2 separate regions of the Homo sapiens genome follow, and region 2 is linked to region 1. The links come from fine-mapping of genetic effects on gene expression. A gene starts in region 1. The other region holds a variant in brackets. All regions are shown on one strand. Distances are from middle to middle. Region 1 holds the start of CCR7 (C-C motif chemokine receptor 7). Region 2 has its middle 31 kb from the start of CCR7.

Region 1 (5,383 bases):
TCGGTCTCATTGCTCGAAGGTGGGGAGGGTGCCTCAGAGCTGCTCATTCAAACCGTGAAAAAGGCCAGCTCAGCCCTGCTTGGGAGTTTTCATTTTGTGTAACAGAAACCCTCCCTCCTCACCCACCTCTTGCTCCTTGCTGGGCAGATGAAGAGCAGAACAACAGATCCTCCAAGGCCCACCCACCCCATCAACGGCCCAGAGAGCCCGTTTTGAGTAAAGCTTGTCAGCGGCTTCCCCTCCTACCAGTATTTCGGGTTTGACCGTTGGGGCTCTCTCAAGTTGAGTGAAGTGGCAAGAATATCCCTTCTTCCTGGACCAGAGATTACCCTCTCTCCCTGCATCAAAGCCTAGGAGTCTAGCACCCCTAAACCTAGTCTGGGGTAAGACACTCTGCACATCTTCCCAACCCCCTGTTCAGTCATGTAGATGGCTTGAAATCAATCAGCCAGGGTGGGAGAATTTACACCATGGAAATTGGCAAGCACTACAAATTCAGGACTTTCCCTCCACCCTGGAGTCAGCTACCAGTGCTCCACCCCGGGGAGCTGCTTTTCAAATGCCCAGTAGCACACCACTGGGCACTGCTTGGTTTCCTTCCTGGAGGCCAGTATGAAAGGCTGGAGCAGGGTCTTCTGTGGGTGACGTCTGTACTGTGGGATTGTGATGGGGGGTGGTGGAGGGGGTGCAGGGGAGTGGGATTTAAGGGTAGATTGGCTGGGAAATGAGGCATTTGGAAGAGATTTTCAAAAACTAAACTCTACGGAGTTCTTGATACGGTGTATTCATTCATTCCGCAGACATTTTCTCCTCACATCCTCAAAGCACCTGAACCTGCCTTTCAGGAGTTCACAGTCAGTGGGTGGGGTGACCACTTTAACCCTTTCACAGCTGTTTGCTGGGTCCAGATCCAGCGTTCAGGGCAGGCGGGAAAGTAAGAGATGAAATCAAGGAGGCTGTGGTGTGGCGAGGAGGGGTGTGAGGACAGCACCAGGGAACCTTCACTTTTTAAAGCCAACCCTTTGCGGCTTTGAGGCCGCCGTGGTGCATTGTTTGCTGGTGAGACAAGCCATCTAGGAACCTGGTCTTCTTAGCCTCAGCCTGGTCTGACTCCACAGCTGAGATTTATAAAGGGGGCGTCTGGAGCTGGATGAACCACTCAGAACACCCTCAGTGCTTCCCCTTGACCCCTTCTAGGTTAGACCTGAGAAAGGGCTTTCTAAAGAGTAGAGTTATCTGCCGGGGCAGAGTGCGTGAGGTTTGCTCAGGGGCAGGGGCTGTGCTGAAGGCCTGGCTATGATTTCTCCAAGCTGAGTGCCCCTTGCCATCCCATTCCATGTTGCCTGCCCGTTCCTTAACTTGCAAGAGGCAACAGCAAAGCCAGATCAAAGCAGGTGGGATGTGCAGCAGAGAGAAAGCAACCAGAGCTTGCATTTGCAATGCACCGCACCATTCTCACAACCCAGTCACGTTTCATTTGCATCTCCTCATGACCCCAAGTGGACAGGTATATGAATATTTGGCAGGGGAGAAAGGTGGGAATCAGAGAGTGGGTAAAAGGTCCTAAGCTCTCTAGGGAGAATTTCTCTGTTGAAACCTGTCCCCAGAGGTCCCAGAGGGCCTAACCTATCACCCTCATGATGAGAACAGGTTCTGCCAGACCACCAAGCCCAGCCCCGCCACTCTCTTATGTCCCTGCTGTTTTAGAAAGACATGATCTCGGCCCCTCCCTTGTCCCCACTGGCACCAAAGGCTGACCCCTTCTCCAGGTCTGAAAGGGCAGGTGCACCCCTCCTGGGACAGCAGGGGGCATTCTCTGGAAGTAGCTTCCAATGCCCACCAAATCAGAACTGATTTCTCCAGGAAGCACCCCTATGCGCTCCACCCGCATCCTCCACCCCCATTCCACAGGGTCAGTCTGGGTGTCCAAGACCCTGGTACTGTTCCTTCTCACATGAAGAGGCTCACTCACCCAGGTCCATGACGCTCTCTGGGCGGTAAAACCACACAGGAAGGCTGTGCCCGGCCTCGCACTACCCCTGTCTGGGGAGGAAGTGGTTCAAGCCCCTTTTAAGTTGTCGGAGAAGCCACCCTCTTCCCTGCCCCTCCCACCCTTGCTCCTCCCCCCAGCCCTCCCTGACTCATGCAGGGCCCCTTCAATGCCTTCAGAGATAAAGGGGCAGAAGAAAGGTGACAGAGGGTGACAGTCGCTGGTCATAGGATCCTGAATCATTAGGTCATTTACATTCAAAAAGCCCCCTGCGCTGCCTGGCAGAATCTAGATGAGGGGCCATTTACTGATTCAACAAATATTTATAGCATGAATATCACATGCCAGGCCATGGGTTAGATGTTGGGGAGTCAGAGATGTGTGAGAGAAGTGTCCCCATCCTTCCCTTGCTCTGCTCAGTGTCACAGTGGAATATAGTCCCAAATGGCTTTCCCTCTGGCTTCTGGGTAGTTTAGGCCAATGGGAGGCACTGACACATAATGACAGGTAAAAGGGAAGAGATATGCCACGATGTATCTTTTTTCTCCCCCCTTCCCCTCCCCTCCCCTCCCTCCCCTTTCCCTCTTCTCCCCTCCCTTCCTTTTCCTTTCTTAATGACAGCTTTATTGAGCTATAATCCACATCCCATAAAATTTACCTTTTTAAAGTATAGAATTCAATGGTTTTTGTATGTTCACAGAGTTATGCAACCATCACCACAATACATTTTAGAACATTTTTTCTCACTCCCTCTCAAGAACCCTGTAATCACTAGCAATGACTGCTCCCCTCCCCTCCTGTCATCGAAAGCCCCTGGCAACCACAAATCTACTTTCTGGCTCTATAGATTTTCCTATTCTGAACATTTCACATAAATAGAAGTATCAATATGTGACCTTCACATCTGGCTTCTTTCAGTTAGTGTTTTCAAGGTTACCTATGTGGTGGTATGGATCCATTCCCCATTCCTTTTTATGGCTGAATAACATTCCATTGTATGGATATGCCACATTTTGTTTGTCTGTCATCAGTTGGATGTTTGGGCTGTTTTCCCTTTTAGCTATTATGAATGATGCTGCTATAAATATTTATGTGCAAGTGTTTGTGTGGACATATGCTTTATTTCTCTTGGGTATATACCTAGAAGTGAAATTGTTGAGTCATATGGTAATTATATATTTAACATTTTGACGAACTATCAAACTGTTTTCCAAAGTGACTACACCATTTTGTTCCCATCAACAATGCGTGAGGGTTCCACATTGTCAACAAAACTTACTATTGTCCATTCTTTTGATTCTAGCCATCCTAGTGGCTGTAAAGTGGTATCTCATTGTGTTTTTTTTCTTTTTTCTTTTTTTTTTTTGGAGATGGAGTCTTACTCTGTTGCACAGGCTGGAGTGCAGTGGCACGATCTTGGCTTACTGCAGTCTCCACCTCCTGGGTTCAAGTGATTCTCCTGCCTCAGCCTCCCAAGTAGCTGGGACTACAGGCACGTGCCACCATGCCTGGCTAATTTTTGTATTTTTAGTAGAAACGGGGTTTCACCATGTTGGCCAAGCTGGTCTCAAACTCCTAACCTAAGGTGATCTGCCAGCCTCGGCCTCCCAAAGTGCTGGGATTGCAGGCATGAGCCACCATGCCCGGCCTCTTTGTAGTTTTGATATGCGTTTTCCTAATGACTACCTATGCTGAGCATCTTTTCATGCTCTTATTGACCATTTGTATTATTTTTTGAGAAATTTCTATTCAAATCCTTTGCCCATTTAAAAAATTGGGTTATTTATTTTTTATTATTGAGTTGTAAGACTTCTTTATATATTCTGGTTACAATCCCTTATCTGATACATATCTGTAAATATTTTCTCCCTTACTATGGATCATCTTTTCACTTTCTTGATAGCGTCCTTTGAAGCACAAAGGCTTTTTGTTTTTTAAAACCTGAATCTCTGGCAAAAGAAGCGCAAAGTTTTAAATGTGGAGGTTCAATTGATTTATTTTTCTTTTGTCAATTGTGTCTTTGGTGCCATATCTAAGAAACCATTGCATAATTCAAGTATACAAAGATTTATTCGTATATGTTCTTTTAAGACTTTTATAGTTTTAGCTGCAACATTTAGATCTGATCCATTTTGAGCTAATTGTTGCATATGGTGTGAGGTAGGGATCCAGCTTCATTTTTTATATGGATATCTAGTTTTCCCAGCATCATTTGTTGAAAAGACTATTTTTTCCACCATTGAACTGTCTTAGCACCTCTGTTGGAAATCAATTCATCATAAATGTAATGGTTTATTTCTAGACTATCAATTCTATTTTATCAATCTCTGTGTCTGTCCTATGACAGTACCACACTGTCTCGATTACTGTAGCTTTATAGCAAATTTTGAAATTGGGAGTTGTGACTGCTCCAACTTTATCTGTCTTTTTAAACATTGTTTGACTAATCTGCATCTCTCTCTTTTCCATATGAATTTTAGGTTATCAATTTCTGCAATGAAACCAGCTGGGATTCTAATAGGAATTTCATTGAATCTGTAAATCAATTTAGGGAGTATTGCCATTCTAACAAAGTCTTTTGGTCCATGAACATGGGATTTTTTTCATTTATTTAGGTCTTCCTTAATTTCTTTATACTTTTTAGGCTGCAAGTCTTTCACTTCTTTGTTAAATTTTTTCTTAAGTATTTTACTCTTTTTGATGTGCTTGTAAATGAAATTGTTTTCTTAATTTTATTTTCAAAGATGGCCAACTAGAAGCAGGTATGGGGCATGGCTCTCTCAGAGAGGAACAAAGGGGTGGGTACTTCAAAACCTTTATCTGAAACATCCAGATACTTGCATTGGGACTGATTAAGGAATCAGCTCGACCCACAGAGGATAGAGGAAAGCAGGGCAGGGCAATGGCCTACATAGGAGCAACACAGACCCAAAGGAAACCCCCTCCCCTCCCCCCACCAGGGAAGTGGTGAGTGAATGTGCAAACCTGGGGAATGATGCTTCTCCCACCGATCTTTGCAACCTTTGGATCGGGAGATCCCCTGTGAACCCACTCCACCAGGCCTTTGGGTCTTACACACAGAGCTGCATTGGATTATTGGCAGAGCAGCTGCTCAGGCATGCACAGACACCCAGGAGCTTTACATACTCAGGCTCCGGAACCCCAGCAAAGGTGACCGCCATTCAGGCAAGGCAGGAGGTCTGTACATACCCCTAGGAAGGAGGCTGAATCCAGGGAGCTGAGCAGCATTGGTCTGTGGGCCTCACTTCCACAGCACCTCACCAGATAAGACCAACTGGCTTGGAATTCCAGCCAGCCACGGGCAACAGTGTAGCACCTACCTGAGACAAGGTGGAGTTCTGGGGGTGGCTGGGGTGGGGGTGAGGGGCACCA
Region 2 (5,383 bases), 31 kb after region 1:
TCACTGACTAATCAAACCCTTCATGATCTAAAACCCAGAGACTGGGTCTTCTGAGAACAACATCAGAAAAAGATTGCCCTTGTTACCCACACTGCAGAAAACTTTGGGAACTTGAACCTTGTTCGTATCTCATAACTCAGAAGGGCACCTCCAGACTCTTAATTGTACAGCCACTGGAGACCTAAAGATAGAGATAACCAAGGAAGTTTCTCCCCAGAAACAGATGGCATCCCAGATATGAACAACTTTTTCCCAAGATCATGGATCAAGACTTCTCTGCTACCGTGAGACTTGTATCTCTCAGTTTTTCCTTGCTTTTGCCTTGATATGGTTTGGATCTGTGTCTCCACCCAAATCTCATGTCTAATTATAATCCCAAATTTGGAGGTGGGGCCTGGTGGGAGGTGATTGGATGGTGGGGGTGGTTTCTTAGGTTAACGTAAGAAACCCCTTGGTGGTGTCATTGCAAAAGTGAGTTCTCATGAGATCTGGTTTAAACAAAAGTGTGTGGCACCTCCCCACTCTCTCTCTCTTGCTCCTGCTCTGATGATGTAAGATGTGGCCTGCTGCCCCTTTGCCTTCTGCCATGATTGTAAATTTCCTGAGGCCTCCCCAGAAGCCCATCGGAGGCCAGCATTATGCTTTCTGTACAGCTTGCAGAACTGTGAGCCAGTTAAACCCCTTTTCTTTATAAATTACCCAGTCTCAGGTATTTCTTTATAGCGGTGCGAGAATGGACTAATACAGGCCTCTATGAAAAATAGAACTGAAAATAAGGTCTCTTTTGTACACTCATGGAGTATACTTTTATTAGTGGAGGATTTCGAAGCAAACCTTTTATATGGACACCCTTACGTCTTGACAGATGAAGGATAAAGGGCCAATGTGGATGAAAAATTTTATTGGTATCTTTGTTGCTTCATAATCACTCAGAAACAGAACACTGGTCCACTCCTCTTAACCTATGTCATAGGTTAAAACATTGCCAAGAGGCCTTCACTCTTCTAGATAGGCATCATTTATTAGATCTTTTTTTCTTGGTTTAGAGTAAATGAGGCAATGATTAAAAATTTATCCCTCATAATAGGCTAGATAACAGATTCTACTACAGAGACTCTGGTTACACAACAGATTTTAAATTCTCTTGCTAAAGTTGCACTAACTAATAGAATTGCTCTGGTTTACTTACTGGCTAAACAAAGTAGTGTCTGCAGTTGCTGACACATCTAATTACACACGGAGGAATACATAGGGTATTATAGAGACTCAGTTGTAGGGGATTAATGGACAGGCTGCTTGGTTGAAATGAGTAAACTCTTTATCGAGTTTATTGTTTGATCTATTTGATTTTAGTTGGTTTGGTTCATGCGGAACCTGGATACAGAGCATACTCCAAACTCCTGGTGTTATCCTTCTGATAGTCATAATTGTAATCTCCCTGGTGTGCTGTATTCTCTCAAAAGTTCTAAATGTTTGTACGTAGCCATCTCCAGAATGTCAGATGGTCTCTCCTAGATTGGAATGACAATAACTCAAAGAATTGTGTGGCCATAAGGACACCGTAACCTATGAACTATGTGCTGAGACTGAAAACCCAAAATGATGGTAAGCGAGAGTGGAGCTCATGGCCTAAGTTTTGGTCACACTCTCACCTAAGTGAGAACCTGACCAGAAGGGGGAAAATTTTAAACAAAATTATAGGAGGCAATTGTTTTGGACTGAGATTGTGCATTAGACCCCAGCAGACCAGACCAAACCAAAACAGAGTCACTCAAATGTGACATGATCGATCTGAAACTTTAAGAAAACAGACCAAAAGTTTTGCTTTTCTCTTAAAAACAGGAGACTGCAGTACAAAGAGGTCCCTGCTACTCTAATCCTTAAAAAAAAAATAACCTGAAGTCCTTGTTTCCACCTCACAAACCCACTGTTCTGCTATTTCCCAATGGGATTTAGGACCAAATAGGTACCTTTATCATGGTGACAGAGTGACATCAGTGCCTAAAGTTTTGGTCTATCTCTCAAAATTAAGAGGATGACCAAAAGGGGGGAATTATCAAATTAAGTTTAGCTTAAAGCTGCTTCCTTACATATTCTAAGTTCTGTCTAAAGGTTTCTCCTACACTGTAAACTGCAACCTAACTGGATGTGTAAACAGACTGTAACCTACTATTGTGCCACTCATTGAATTTCAGCCAGTCAAGGGCAGTCAACTGTTCAAAGCGTGTTTAAATAAGGCAAATGCCAACTATAACCAATCCAGCCGTTTCTGTACCTCACTTCCTTTTTCTGTCTGTAAATCTCCCACCAAGTGGCTGTGCTAGTGTCTCTCTGAGCCTACTGTGGCTCAGGCGAATACCTGACTCACACATTGGTTTTTGCTCCACTAAATTCTGTTAAATTTAATTTGCCTAAGGTTTTTCTTTTAAAAGCCCCAAAGTTAAATGCCTCTGTTGTCTGCACACCAGCAAAATAGAAGCCTCATGCAGCCCTCGTGTCAATACAGTACTCATTTGTGAATTAGCAGTTACCTGAGTGCTTCTGATTGGTGGAGGGTAGGTCACATGAATCAATTCCTACATGACTGCTTCTGATTGGTGGAGAGTAGGTCACATGAATCGGCACCTACATGACTGCTTCTGACTGCTGGAGGGTAGGTCACATGAATCAATGCCTACATGAGTGCTTCTGATTGGTGGAGGGTAGGTCACATGCCTGTGTCCTAACTGCAGGGGATACCGGGAGTTTGAGTTCTTGACTTCTATTTCGGGAGGCAGGACAATAATAAAGGAATTTCCTCCAGAAAGAAAAGCTGTCCGTAAGATGATGAGCCGCCATCATGAATGTGACAGGTGTCCATTACACTGACTCACCCTGAATGTCACACCATAGGAAGTGAAGTTAGATGTCCGAACACATTCCCCTTTTAAAATCCTGCTCCTTTCTTAAAATATGGTTTAGAGCAAAGAGTTTTTATTACATAGTTTTTTGAGGTATAATTTTACACGCAGTAAAAATTACCCATTCTAGCGTACAGGTCTAGAATTTTTTAAAAAATAAATTCATACAATTATGTACTACCACCAACAACATACGGTATATAATAGTTTCATCACACACCACTGTTCCCTCACGTGTCTTTGTAGCCA[A/G]CCCCTTCCTCTACCCTCAGCTCCTCACAACCACTGAACTGGTTTCTGTCTGTAGTTTTTGGAACAAAGACTTTCTAAGCAAAGAACAAAAATGGAGCAGAAGAGAGTCTGTGTGTAAATACCAATGTATGCATGTTGGAATCTCCCCCTCCTTGGCTCCTGTCCTGGGGGTGAAGAAAGATAAAGATTATTGAAAACAAATTGAAATGATCAAAAGTATAATTTCTTTTCAATGTCAGATTTAGGGCTTAACTCAGGAAGATGGATGAGCTCACTATTGTGGCTCCGGCTCACTGCATGAATTCCTGTTTAGAGTGATAGGTAAATAGCACCTGAACAAATGCAGCCTGCCCTCAGATTCAGGTGGAGGAACCCACACCTTAGAGGTCTTTCTCTGGCCTTCCTCAGACGGTACCCTTGTCAGGTGAAGGACTGGTCCATGTCCCCCCTTCTATGTCACACTCCAGGTCTCAGGACCCAGTATTCCCGGCCCAAAGAGTCCTCAGCCACTTTCAGGCTTGCATGGGCCTCTTCCCAGGGAAAATCCTCCACAGGGTAGACTGCACAGCTTGGTATGCACCCCTAGACTCTGTTGATGACCACGTCCTGGCTGTTTATGGTGGCTGTAGATGACGCTTAGGTATCCAGGCTGGGGAGTAGAGAAGGGGAGCTGAGGGGAGAGTCTGAGAGTTCTCGAAGGAGTCTGAGAATTCTAAATTTAAACATGACCCTTTAGGTCGTTATGAAAATGTATAGTTTCATTATGAAATGGAACCTATTTTATAAGTCTGTTAGCTCTATTTATAATGTAACTATCTGGGCAGGTAGTGCGTAGGCCTCTGTTTGTACTCTTGCCTGGGCCCTGCAAATATTTGAGACAGGCCGAAATGAATCTAACTGTGCTTCCTCAGAGAGTTACCAAAGCTCTCTGCAGGCCAGGCTCCCTGGTGGCAGCCCTGAACCCCTTTCCTGAGGATGTGGGAGAGGAAAAGAGGGAGACATTTCTTGGATGTCTGCTATGTGCTGGAATCTGACCTGGGCTGTTTCCCTCACATCATCTCATTTGGGTCTCCCAGCTACTTGCCAGATAGGTATGTCATTGCCAATGTATAGATGAAGAAATGGAGGCCTAGCAGCATTTAAGAGCCTTAAGTGCCCAAGCTGGGATTCCAGCGCAGATCTGCGTGGCTTCAAGTCTGGCCGTCTTCCATGCTGCCATTAGAGTTCTGTCCACCTTGGCTCTCCTCCCCGACAGGATTCCCAGAGGGCCCGAAGTCAGTTACTTAAATGGGTTGAAATCAGACATGTACTATGCTTTGGGGAGAAACGAAACCAAACCATAAATTTCCCGAACCTTCTCTGGTTGGCCCTGTTTTTGTTCCAAAGCAGAAAAGGGCAAAGTACAGGAGGGGGCTGGGGCAGAGAGAGTGCAAACACATGGGTACAGAAGGCACGTGATAATTCGCTGTGGAAGCAAGAGAGCGGGTGGGTGCGGACGTGGGTGGGAGTGAGGGCTGAGACCAAGAAGTTTGGCTTTTGAGTCAGTCCTGGTTTTAAATCTAGGTCCCACCACTTACAAATTGTTCAACTTAGACCAAGTTGCTTAACTACATAGAATCTCGGTTTCACTATCTTCAAAAGATAATTGATAATAGGGTTTCTTCTAAGAGTCTTTGTAAGGAGGAAACGAAATCGCATCAGTAAGGCCCCAGCCCGCAGCAGGTTCTCGACAACATTCATTCCCTTCCACCCTCTCCTTCCTCCTATTGACAGAGTTGCTTCAGCCCATTTTGGCATTCTGTAGATTTCTACAGCTGAGAAATCCAAAAATAAACTTGAATTATGGTGGGTTTAGCACCGAGGCACTTCTGTGTAAATAGCAGAAGTGAAAAGAAAAAAAAGGCCATCTCATTTCTAGTATTTGAAACCAAGCACCCTCATCGTGTGGGCGACTCATAGTAGAGGGGGCAGGGGGAGCGAGGTTTGGCATTTTTTCTCTGCTGTTTTTGTTTTTGTTCTGTGATGATGTGGGGGACTCTCCAGGGACATCATGCGTCACAGAGCAGGGGAGAAAGGGGAGGTGAAGACAGAGCAAGTAGGGAAATTTGATCCGGTCTCTGACGTTGTAGGGCAGAATTGGGGAAAGAGGGAGTGTCGGTCAATGGGTGGAAAAGGTCCCGTGGCTGTCATGCCCTTCTTACCTCCTGCCCCGAGACACAGTTGGGCAAGTCCCT

What was found. PIP is the estimated chance that this variant, and not a neighbour inherited with it, causes the effect.
Region 2: its variant is fine-mapped to the expression of CCR7 in lymphoblastoid cells (GTEx, PIP 0.96).

What each region holds. Positions count from the first base shown.
Region 1 is chr17:40,563,428-40,568,810 of GRCh38, forward strand. It overlaps CCR7 (C-C motif chemokine receptor 7), which reads right to left and starts at 2,045. Exons shown (of 3, transcript NM_001838.4): 1 at 1,973-2,045. The coding sequence starts at 1,982. RefSeq lists an enhancer at 684-1,600.
Region 2 is chr17:40,594,149-40,599,531 of GRCh38, forward strand. No RefSeq gene overlaps it. Among named protein-coding and RNA genes, the nearest start is that of CCR7, 31 kb to the left of the region's middle. RefSeq lists enhancers at 3,813-4,022, 4,449-4,743, 4,951-5,250. The variant A/G (reference allele first, on the strand shown) is at 3,150.